3 linked regions of the Homo sapiens genome follow. The protein of the gene in region 1 binds, or shares a complex with, the protein of each later gene. Each region holds a gene or a part of one and is shown on either strand. Other genes may lie near its edges. The genes, in order: TBL1X, ZYG11B and HDAC3.

Region 1 (3,747 bases):
CTCCACTTGATGGTGTAGATCTCTTTATTGTGAGCCTGAAGATCATGGATGCACACCTCCTGTTTCATGCTCCAGATCTACAGAACACACCAGACACAACATGAGCAAAAGCCATTCCTGCATCCGGGAACGATGTGGAATCATTCCTCCCGGGGGTGCACACGGGGCCCAGGGCAGGGTGGAGGGTGCACAGTGGTGAGAAAGGCTGCAGGGAGGCTGCGATTCTCAGTGGGACTATGACTGAGAAATCGTAGCTCACCGGATGACAGAGGAAGGGAGGGTGGTCAGTAATAAATAATCCTCATGTAAGAGTGACCGTGAGACTGGCATCAAGTGCCCGGGGTTGTCTAGGATTAAACAGCCCACCCCTTGCCATGCCGACTCTACCTTCAATGTCATGTCATCCGAGCAGGATGCCAGCAACATTCCAGACGGATCCCATTTGATGGCGTTGACCTCGTTCTGAAAGAGAGCAGAAGAGTGTGAAAAAGACATCAGGGCCTGTGAGTAGATGAGGTCACCTTCCAGCAGGGGGCAGCAGCGCGCCACCGGCGCTGCAGAAGGTCTTCGGCTTCAGCCTGACATCAAAGGGCACAGCCCAACCAGCCATCTAGTTTCCTCTTTTTCTCACTTTGCCTTTTTCATTTATATAAAACCACAGCCCTATACCACACAACACCAGCCACTCTCATCCATACTTCATTAAGAAAAAAACCTTCCCTGCTAGGAAGGAAGGCAAGTGAAGAAATCACATACCATAAAACGCAGCAAATAAAACCAGTAAAACCAGTTACTTTTTAAATTGGCCTTTGAAAATCACTTTCCTATGCACTTTTCTTTTTCAGACAGGGTCTCACTCTGTCTCCCGGGCTGGAGTGCAGTGGCAGGATCACAGGTCCTTGCAGCATGTACCTCTTAAACTCAAGCAATCCTCTTGCCTCACCCTCCCAAGTAGCTGGGACTACAGGCAGGCACCACCATGCCCTTTTTTTTTTTTTTTTTTTTTGGGATTTTTGCCCAAGCTGGTCTTGAACTCTTGGGCTCAAGTGATCCTCCCACCTCGACCTCCCAAAGTGCTGGGATTACAGGCGTGAGCCACCATGCCAGGCCTCTTATGCACTTTTAATGTAACAGTTCCTCCAGTGTCCACACCCATTAGAAGGTATTTCTCTCCTGCAGGTGAGTGGAGGCGGAGGGAGGGGTAAACATGAGAAGTGAACCCTCACCTATTACGGAGTTCAAGCGGGGTAAGGGCTGATCCAGGTGGAAGATGGGCGACCCAAATGCACACACAGGCAGGCACACATGTGCAACACAAGTGAGAGGCAAATGCTGAGTGGCACAAACACACATGACACAGGCAAAATCCTGGCTGGGGGCTCGTGATCGGCACAGCCAGGTAGCGAAAAGCACAGGCTCAGGACACCTGGGGACCACGAGGCTAAACCCTGGAGGATAAAGGTGAATGAATGTACCCAGGGGCCAAGGGAGACGGGGACACTACCGGGACAGGCATGTGTAAAAGAACCACCTGTGGCAAAGGTTCAGCTGGGGAACAGCCTACCCAGGAGAAATGAGGGGACATGGCGTACCAGCTTGGGGCTCCCTCAGGGGTGACTATAGGGCCCCATATGTCCAGTCCAGTCCCACCATGTGACACCTGCTGTCCCGGCCTAACAATTAACTAATGACACACTCATAATGAATTTTCTAAATTTCATACTCCTAAGGGCTCCGGTTTGGATTAACTGTATGGTCAGGTTGCTTTCTAAGAACATGGAGTTTTGAAGGGTGTGAACTGGACAGTGACAAGGCCACATCTGTGTTCCATGAGGCACACGTGGCCCAGGAAAGGGAGGAGGAAGAAGTTTCGCGGCCCAGGGGCAGGCTGCTGCGAGAGCCCGGGAGGGTGGAGGGGGCCGACTGGAGAGGGGGCTGAGGGTTGTGAGTGTGCACACGCATGGGTGTCTATGAGTGTGAATGTGTATGCAAGGCCAGCAAGGGTGGCTCTGACTGCAGCTGTTCAGAGGAAAACTCATGGGCCCAGGAATGTAGAGCTGGTCACCACTGGCTGTCCCTAGCCAAGCCCATGCAAAGGAACAAATAACTTCCTGGGAGCGGATCCCTAGCTCTGCAATGCAAGCCCCGGTTCCTGGGCCGCCTCCAGAGCCGGCTCATGGGTCTCCACTCAACCCCACTGAGCTGGAGCTTTGTTCAGGGCCATCAGCCACATTAAGACCCACTTAAAGGGCCAAGGCCTGTGCTGGTGGCAAGGTCCTGGGCAGGACACCTGGGAACTGCAGATAGTGTGTACAGCTCTATTAAAAACTTGTGGATAGTCCAGGGTTAGAGGAGAAATAAGTTTAGACCGGGAGAAGAGAGTCAGTTTGGAGCCAAACAGATGTTAACAGGACGATAGGTGCCTGTGCTCTAAAAGCGCCTTCCTTTGGGACAGGGACCCCTGGGCCAGGGGTGGGGAGAGGTGGGCATTAGGGGAATCAGGACAAGGGAATTTACATCAGTTAAGTTAGTGGCACAATGGCAAATCTCCAGGGACTGTGACCATCCTCTCCTGCTTTAACAAGGGACCCCCACCCTGCCCCACCACAGAGATATCCTGGGTGCTGGTGAGAGAAAGGCAAGATGCCATGGTCCCAGCATTGATGCACTCTGCGTTTTCTGGGAGAGGCAGACACGCAGGCCAGCAGCTACTGCCAGGGCTGTGGCATTCATGTGGGCAGTAGGAGCTCAGGGGGTGCCGTGAATCCTCCCCAGGGCGTGCAGAGGATACGTGAATGGGCCTGGAGACTGGGGAGGATTCTGTTTTGGACCGAGAGCTGCTGTGGGGGTCTAAGGCAGGGAGCATTCCAGGCAGGGCTCAGCGCGGGGCAAGGTGCTTGGCTGCACGTGTCTTTAGGAGGACAGAGGCACAGGGAATTTTTGGACACTAGCCCAGGAGGTCGAGGCTAGTAAATGGGTTTACCAGCAGACTGGAGATTGCAGAAGGTTAGAGACCATAGAAATTGGCTAATCTGAGGGAGATTTGGTGAAAGACCGGGAAGCGCCTCAGAGGCCAAACTAAGGAATTTGCTAAGTCAGCTGTTGTTCCCATTGTTGTTCCCTGGTATATAATGGATTTGTCAGCCTCTGCTTGCCTTTAGGATTTTCTCTGTCATTGATTCTGGTGTTTGATGGCCATATGCCTAGGTGGATATGGTCTGTTCTGTTTGTGTGGTTCTGTTTATATTTGTTCTGCTTGAAATTTGCTGAGCTTCTTGGATTAAATGTTGATGTTTTCCACCAAATTTAGGAAAACTTGGCTGTTACTGCCTCAAATGATTTTTCTGTTCCATTCTTTCTTCTCTCCCCATCACGCATATAGGTTTAGGGTCTCTGATATTGTTCCATAAGCCATTAAGCCTTTATGCATTTTTTCGATCTTTTATCTGTTCTTCAAATTGGCCAATTTCTATGCTCTCTAACCTTACTTCCGCAATCTCCCATCTGCTGGTAAATCCACGGATGTGGTTTAGGATCGGTGTCCCCACCCAAATCTCAGGTGGAACTGTCATCCCTGATGCAGAGGTGGGGCCTCGTGGGAGGTGTCCGGATCATGGGGGCAGATCCCTCGTGGCTTGCTGTCTTCGTGAGTTTTTGTCCTTTAAAAGTATGTGACACCCCCCCCACTCCTCCCACCTCTTGCCCCTGCTCTGGCCATGTGAGGTGCCTGCTCCTGCTTCACCTCCT
Region 2 (3,747 bases), on another chromosome or scaffold:
CTTGTTTGTAAATTTTACTGAAATAGGAAATAATTCTGTCTTTGTATACAATTGCTTCCACGCATGAGCTTTATCTAAGGAAAATAACCTCCTATGTTGGGTTAATAATTTTTTTTTTTTGAGATGGAGTTTCACTCTTTTTGCCCAGGCTGGAGTGCAATGGCTCGATCTCAGCTTACTGCAACCTCCGCGCCCCCCGGGTTCAAGTGATTCTCCTGCCTCAGCCTCCGGAGTAGCTGGGATTACAGGCACCCGCCACCACGCTCGGCTAATTTTTGTATTTTTAGTAGAGACAGGGTTTCACCACATTGGCCAGGGTGGCCTTTTTTTTTTGAGACAGAGTCTTGCTCTGTCGCCAGGCTGGAGTGCAGTGGCACAATCTCGGCTCACTGCAACCTCTGCCTCCCGGGTTCAAGCGATTCTCCTGCCTCAGACTCCTGAGTAGTTGGGACTACTGGTGTGTGCCACCACGCTCAGCTAGTTTTTCTATTTTTAGTAGAGACGGGGTGTCTTTTTTTAACCTCTGTAATCACAGTGTCTCAATCTCTTGACCTCGTGATCCGTCTGCCTTGGCCTCCCAAAGTGCTGGGATTACAGGCGTGAGCCACCACACCCGGCCAAATTATTAATTTAGAATTTTAGTCAGCTAATAAATTATATGTCTAATAATAGGGGGAGATACAGAATGCCACTAGTGTTAATATTTAATCTCTGTATACAAGATATAATTTTCTTTTAAGCAAGAAGGAAATTTAGTAAGATTTCCCTCCTATTGTAGGACATTTCTCCACTTGTGCTTCTGAATAACTCTGATTCATACTGGCCTGAGACTGCTCAGACTTATGGTTCAAAAGCATAAGCTTGGAAGGGATTTCAATTTATTTATTGATTCCCCTACACACATCCTTTTTCAAGTTTCAAGAACACATTTACTGATACTAATAATAACTTCCATCTTTTTAGTTCAAAATGTCACTGTCATAAGAAAAAAATAGGCTGGGCACGATGGCTCAGGCCTGTAATCCCAGGACTTTGGGAAGCCAAAGTGGGCAGATCACGTGAGTCCAGGAGTTTGAGAGCAGCCTGGGCAACATGGTGAAACCCCATCTCTACAGAAATACAAAAATTAGCCTGGCGTGGTACTGCACGCCTGTAGTCCCAGCTGCTTGAGTTGGATGAGGCGGGAGGATGGCTTGGGCCTGGGAGGTCGAGACTGCAGCAAGCCGTGGTTGCACCACTGAACTCCAGCCTGGGTGACAGAGTGAGATCCTGTCTCAAAAATAAATAAATAAATAAAAGCTATTAGTGTTGCTGCTTAACCATCCCATCTAAAATAGTTGCCCTCTCACACACACACAATATCACTTTATATCTTAGCCTGGTTTATTTTTTCTTAGTATTTATTATATAACTATTGTCATTATACATTTATAGGTGTATTTATTGTGTATCCCCTCCCTGTACCCCATGTCTTTTTTTCACTTCTGTAATCACAGTGCCTAGAACATCACCTAGCCCTTAGGAGCTGGTCAAAAATCATCTCTTTATCAATGATTTTTATATTCTGGACATGGAAAGAGACTCTAATCAAATAATTACAGTAAGAAATATAAAATTCCTGTTGCTATGTATTCTATGAAAAAGTGCTACATAATAAAGAGGAGAGTGACCTAGGTTTTTTGGACAGCGTTTCCCTGAGTTCCTTGAATGGAGAACTCCAGGATATGTTAGAGTTAGGCAGGCAAGAGAGAGTATCACCACAGGTCATTTGCACATGCTGCTCCTTCTGTCTGGACTCTTTTTTTTTTTTTTCTTTTTTTTTGAGATGGAGCCTCACTCTGTTGCCCAGGCTGGAGTGCAGTGGCACAATCGCAGCTCACACTGCAGCCTCCACCTCCCGGGTTCAAGCAATTCTCCTGCCTCAGCCTCCCGAGTAGCTGGGATTACAGGCACCTGCCACCATGCACAGCTTATTTTTGCATTTTTAGTAGAGACGGGGTTTCTCCATATTGGTCAGGCTGGTCTTGAACTCCTGACCTCAGGTGATTCACCCACCTCGGCCTCCCAAACTGCTGGGATTACAGGCATGAGCCACTGCACCCAGCCTATCTGGACTATTCTTTACATAACTCCTACAATTTAATCCCTCAGTTCTCTACTTGAAAGTAAGACCCTCTGCAAAGCTACTCCTAACTATTCCATTCCATTATTCCACAACTTCTCTTTTCTTTCCTTTCTATTTTTTTTTTTTTTTAATGAGGTCTCGCTCTGTTGCCCAGGCTGGAGTGCAGTGGCATGATCATAACTCAATGCAGCCTTGAACTGCTGGGCTCAAGTGAGCCTCCCACCTCAGGCTTTAGAGCAGATGGTACTACAGGCATGCACCACCATGCCCAGCTATCAACTTGTCCTTTTTCAGCACACTCAAGATATATTAAAACTCTTCACATTTAAAATTACTGTATGAAGGCTGGATGCAGTGGCTTGTGCCTGTAATCCCAGCACTTTGGGAGGCCAAAGCGGGAAGATCCCTGGAGGCCAGAAGTTTGGTACCAGCCTGGCCAACACAGGGAGATCTCTTCTCTACACAAAAACAAAAAATCAGCTGCACATAATAGAGCACACTTGAAGTCCTAGCTTTACTTGGGAGGCTGAGCTGGAAGGACTGCTTGAGCCTAGGGGTTTGAGGCTGCAATGAGCCGTAATCACGCCGCTGCACTCCAGTCTAGGCGGCAGAGCCAGACCCTATCTCAAAATAAATAAATAAATACATAATAAAATAAAATTACTCTATATACATGAGATGAAAAATGCCAGAGGTCACATCTATTTTACTATCTGTCATTTCCCCAGTGTCAACACAGTCAAAGACACTCCAAAAACATTATTAGATTAATTAAAAGTAAGGACTATGTCTTAGACCAGTAGTTCTCAAATTGTGGTTCACAGACCAGCAGCATCAGCATTATGTGGGTTTTGACAGAAATGCAAACTTTTGTAGTAGTTCACGTCTATAATTCCAGCACTCTGGGAGGCTGAGGCAGGAGGATCACTGGAGCCCAGGAGTTTGAGGCCAGCCTAGGCAACATGGCGAAACCCCATCTCTGCAAAACATATAAAAATTAGCCAGGTGTGATGATGGGCACCTGTGGTCCCAGCTACTTGGGAGGCTGAGGTGAGAGGATCGCTTGAGCCTGGGAAGTCAAGGCTGCAGTGAGCTGTGATCATGCCACTGCACTTCAGCTTAGGGACAGAGCAAGACCCTGCCTCAAAAAAAAAAGAACTGCCACCTCTCAGGCCCTGCCCTCAGTTCACTGCAACCTCCACCTCCTGGGTTCAAGTGATTCTCCTACCTCAGCCTCCCGAGTAGCTGGGATTACAGGCATGTGCCACCACACCCAGCTAATTTTTGTATTTTTAGTAGAGACGAGGCTTTGCCATGTTGGCCAGGCTGGTCTCGAACTCCTGACATCTTAAACATCTCAACTATTCAAACACAACCTAATTAACATTTAACAAATATAAAATACAAAGCTTTATAATAATCATTCATTCAACTGTATTTATTATCTACAAAAATATTGCACGAGAAAGTGGCCTCTACTGATAATTCCTAGCTCAAAATAAGCTAATATTCTGCCTTCTCCTCACCTCTCCCATACATACACTGTTACTCTGTGTGTATATGTTTTAACAAGCAAGGAAAAATCAAGTTAATTAGATGCAAAGTTTAAAACATAATCATGC
Region 3 (3,747 bases), on another chromosome or scaffold:
TGGTGAAGCCTTGCATATTGGTGGGGCTGACTCTCTGCAGGAAGTCAATGTAGTCCTCGGAGTGGAAGCGGCACATGTCATGTTGGGAGGCCTGGTATGGCTTGAAGACCTCGGGATGGAGACACAAGATGAACCCAGGCAGGGTCAGCCCCACTCCACAGGCTCAGACCACCCATACTGAACCCAGTCCTGGAGACTATATGAAGCCAAACATAGCATTCCCCTCATCCCACAATCCTTAAGTCAGTAGAGAGACTCCGATTAACCAGGTAAGTTATTACAAATGAGCCCCCTGAAGACCACTTCTTTTCCTTTCCACCTCCAGCTCAGCCTATCGTACCTTCTCAACTTTGAGCCCTGATCCACCTGCCCTGTTCCTTGGAATCTCCTATTCCCAGTTCTCTCCATGCTCATCTCCTCCCCCAAGCTCTGATTCTGTCCTCTTTCCTCTGGATTCTTCTTTCTGGAGTCAAATATATGGGATATATGTCAACTTTCTAATTAAAATCAAAGATTTATTATCTTTGGAAGGTCAGGGGGATGTGTCACACCTCTTTGAAAACTGCACAAGAAAGAGCTTTTCTTCTCCCAGAAAATGCACACAGGTACATACAGGCAAACAATCTCAAGGGATATAGATTCCTGCACTAACATCACCTCAGTCTTTTCTATGACCAGTCCATTTGTCTGTGCCTTGGCACAAGCAATGAACATTCATTCATATTGTTCACTAGTTTCCCTAGCAACACATAAAGCCTGGGTTTAGCTGTTTTGTCTTATTTTTTCTTTTGAGACAAGGTCCTCCCTGTCAACTCAGGCTGCTGATCATAGATCACTGTAACTTTAAACTCCTGGGCCCAAGCCATCCTCTCGCCTCGGCCTCCCAAGTAGTTGGGACTACAGGCACACCCACCGCACATGGCTACTTTTTTTATTTTTATTTTTTGTAGATGTGGGTCCCACTGTGGCCCAAGCTGGTCTCCAACTCCTGGCCTCAAGCGATCCCCCCCATTTCAACCTCCCAAAGTGCTGGGATTACAGGCATGGGCCACCACGCCTGGCGTGGCTTAACTGTTACTATCCCATATCACAGCCATAAATTCCAAGCTGGGAAGACAGCATGTGTATGTCTGGTAGATGAAAAACTGGATAGCGATTAAGCAGAACCATGTAGAGGTATTCCAGGCTGAAAAAGGAATATCTAAAATATCGCCTCTGTTCCACACGCACATACACATTTACAAAGACGGCAGCATCGTTCCACCCTGGAGCCCTAGCTCCTTGGAGGTAAAGAAAGGTGGTAAAAGAGGAGTGGGAACTGAGGGTAAACCTCACACCCTGATACAGTGATATCCGCTCCCCTAACCCTAATTCCTGAGGCCAAGGCCCTATCCACACTCTAAAATGCAGAGGAGGAACACACCTTCTGTCTTCAAACCAGCCCCACATCACGCTAACCCTAGGCCAAGGGCTAGTGTGCCTACAGTCAGAGGGTGGCCGACCTGAGGTGAGAAAGTACTTTCCATTAAGCAGAGGACGCCACCCCCAACACCCTGCACTTTCAAGGTACTCCTGGTGACTTCTATCCAGCTCCCCGATACTCTAGGGGCGGGTCGCACTTCATGCACTCAGTCCAGCCCACCTATCCCTACGGCCACAGCTCGCCCCACCCCCCAACCCCCGGCCGAGGCGGCGGAACTCACGATCATCTTCTTATAGAGACCGTAATGCAGGACCAGGCTATGGGTCAATGCCAGGCGATGGGGCTTCATAGGGTGTCCAGCTCCTGGGGGTGGGGAGAAGAGAGTTCGTCAGCTCTCACCCCTGGAGTTGCAACCCCGCCTCAAAACCTCCGTGTCCCAACCCCTCATGCATATCCCTGTTTCCTCACCGTAGTGGAAGTTGCCCACGTCGGGGTCGTAGAAATAGGCCACGGTCTTGGCCATGGTGCCGGCGGGAGCAGGCCCCGCACCTCCGCCGCCCGCCGCCCGCGGCCGCCGCCAGCCCCTCCCCGGCCGTGCGTGCTGCGCAAGCACGTAGCCGGCCTCTGCGGAACTGGGCGTTGCGGCCCCGCCTCCATCCACACCCAGGCCACGCCCCCAGGGGAGCTCCGCCCCTCGCCCGGCTCAGCTCTCCCGGTATCTGGGGCTTTGAGCGTCCCGGGTTGGGCAGGGAACTGGCAGCATAGCTCCTAGGATGCGAGGGCCATTTGTCTCCGGCCGGGGGTCAGATCCTCGGGAAGCCGAGCCATCCCATCCAGCCGCTTGCCCCAAACCGGGCGCAGGCCGTGGTCACTTCTCTAGGAAGCTCCGAAGATCCCGCCACTCCGTCCCTCAAAGGTGCGGAAAGCCGGCTTCCCCCAGCCCTCGGAGAAGATTCCTGACTCTCCGCTCGGTCGGGGCATCTGAGGGCAGGAGCTGCGCCAGGCGTACCGGATAGACCAGTGGACAACACCCACGCCGGACCGCCTGTCCCCTACCCGGACCCAGACTCGGCGCCGCACATTGCCCCGGGGGGGCCCGGCGCAGTCACGCGCGCGCAGAGCTCACGCTCTCCGCCCCGCACACCTGCGCTCCGCCCCCTGGTCCTGGGCCCGCGACGGGTGAAGGCATTTGGGAAGCCAGGGCGGCTGCGGAGGCGATCTCCCTGACCCAGGGCCGGAGTTGCCCGGAGCCTGCCACCGCTCTCAGCCAGCCCGCATCCTTCTCTGTTCTTCCCTCCCCCCGCCTGCCACGGCGCGGGTATCCGCAGCCACAGCCCGGGGCCGGTGAGGCGGCGAAGGGGGAGGGGAGGAATCAAGGGATGAGCGCCGGAAGGGCGTCGGGGGCCCTGAGCCGCACTAGGACGCCCCTGGAGCCGGAACCCCAGCAGAAGCCGGAACCAGAACCAAATCACCGGTACCGGGTCGGCCAGGTGGTCAGGGTGGGAGAAACCAAAAAGGGAGAGGGGTGCGGGAGTACTGAGAGGAAGGGGCTGCAGAGGCCTGGCTCAGGCCGGCGTGGAGGAGGTGCGGGCGCTGACTCAGGCAGGATTTCTGCTCCCGCCGCCTAAGAATGCCGTCCCATCTCGTGCTGCAGTGTCCTTGGGAGGGACAGAAGCGCGAACAAGCTGGAAAGGGGAACGCTCGGGGCGTCGGGGAAGCGGGACCAGGGTCGTGGTAGAGAGCTTGCGTTGCCGCTGACCTCTTGCCGAAAGGCGAAACAGCACTCCTGGCCCGGACAGCTCCCTGGTTGGGTAGGGGGTGGGGCCGGACCTCAGCCGGACGTCTTAGACGTGCTTGTTTCAGATCCTGAGGACGGCATTCCTACCCCTCCCCCATTCCCAGCTGCAGCCCCCTAAACCCAGGAGGCGCCCTGGCCCGCGCTCGCCCCCCAGGGCCTCATGTCGGAACCACAGCCTGACCTGGAACCGCCCCAACATGGGCTATATATGCTCTTCCTGCTTGTGCTGGTCTTCTTCCTCATGGGCCTGGTAGGCTTCATGATCTGCCACGTGCTCAAGAAGAAGGGCTACCGCTGCCGCACGTCGAGGGGCTCTGAGCCTGACGATGCCCAGCTTCAGCCCCGTGAGTGAGGAGCCTGGAACCCTGGCTCAGTCACCTTTCACCCTTCTCCCCACACCTCTGCCTCCCTGACCAACAGACCCAGGCCAAATCCTGATCAAACCTGCTCAGGAAGCCTAGTGATGCACTCTTGAGTTAGCAAGTGGGGTGACACCACTCTGAAAGCAAAACTAGAGAAAGCAGCA

Evidence for each region.
Region 2: TBL1X (region 1) and ZYG11B share a complex: the UniProt entries of both Homo sapiens proteins name them as parts of the E3 ubiquitin ligase complex.
Region 3: TBL1X (region 1) and HDAC3 share a complex: the UniProt entries of both Homo sapiens proteins name them as parts of the N-Cor repressor complex.

What each region holds. Positions count from the first base shown.
Region 1 is NC_000023.11:9,705,963-9,709,709, reverse strand, and holds part of TBL1X (F-box-like/WD repeat-containing protein TBL1X), read right to left. Parts: intron 463-3,747; coding exon 388-462; intron 78-387; coding exon 1-77. UniProt on the Homo sapiens protein: F-box-like protein involved in the recruitment of the ubiquitin/19S proteasome complex to nuclear receptor-regulated transcription units. Plays an essential role in transcription activation mediated by nuclear receptors.
Region 2 is NC_000001.11:52,729,350-52,733,096, reverse strand, and holds part of ZYG11B (protein zyg-11 homolog B), read right to left. Parts: intron 1-3,747. UniProt on the Homo sapiens protein: Serves as substrate adapter subunit in the E3 ubiquitin ligase complex ZYG11B-CUL2-Elongin BC. Acts to target substrates bearing N-terminal degrons for proteasomal degradation with the first four residues of substrates being the key recognition elements.
Region 3 is NC_000005.10:141,634,845-141,638,591, forward strand, and holds the start of HDAC3 (histone deacetylase 3), read right to left. Parts: upstream 2,006-3,747; 5' UTR 1,947-2,005; coding exon 1,892-1,946; intron 1,787-1,891; coding exon 1,704-1,786; intron 110-1,703; coding exon 1-109. Other genes in the region: RELL2 (RELT-like protein 2), read left to right, coding at 3,382-3,565. UniProt on the Homo sapiens protein: Histone deacetylase that catalyzes the deacetylation of lysine residues on the N-terminal part of the core histones (H2A, H2B, H3 and H4), and some other non-histone substrates.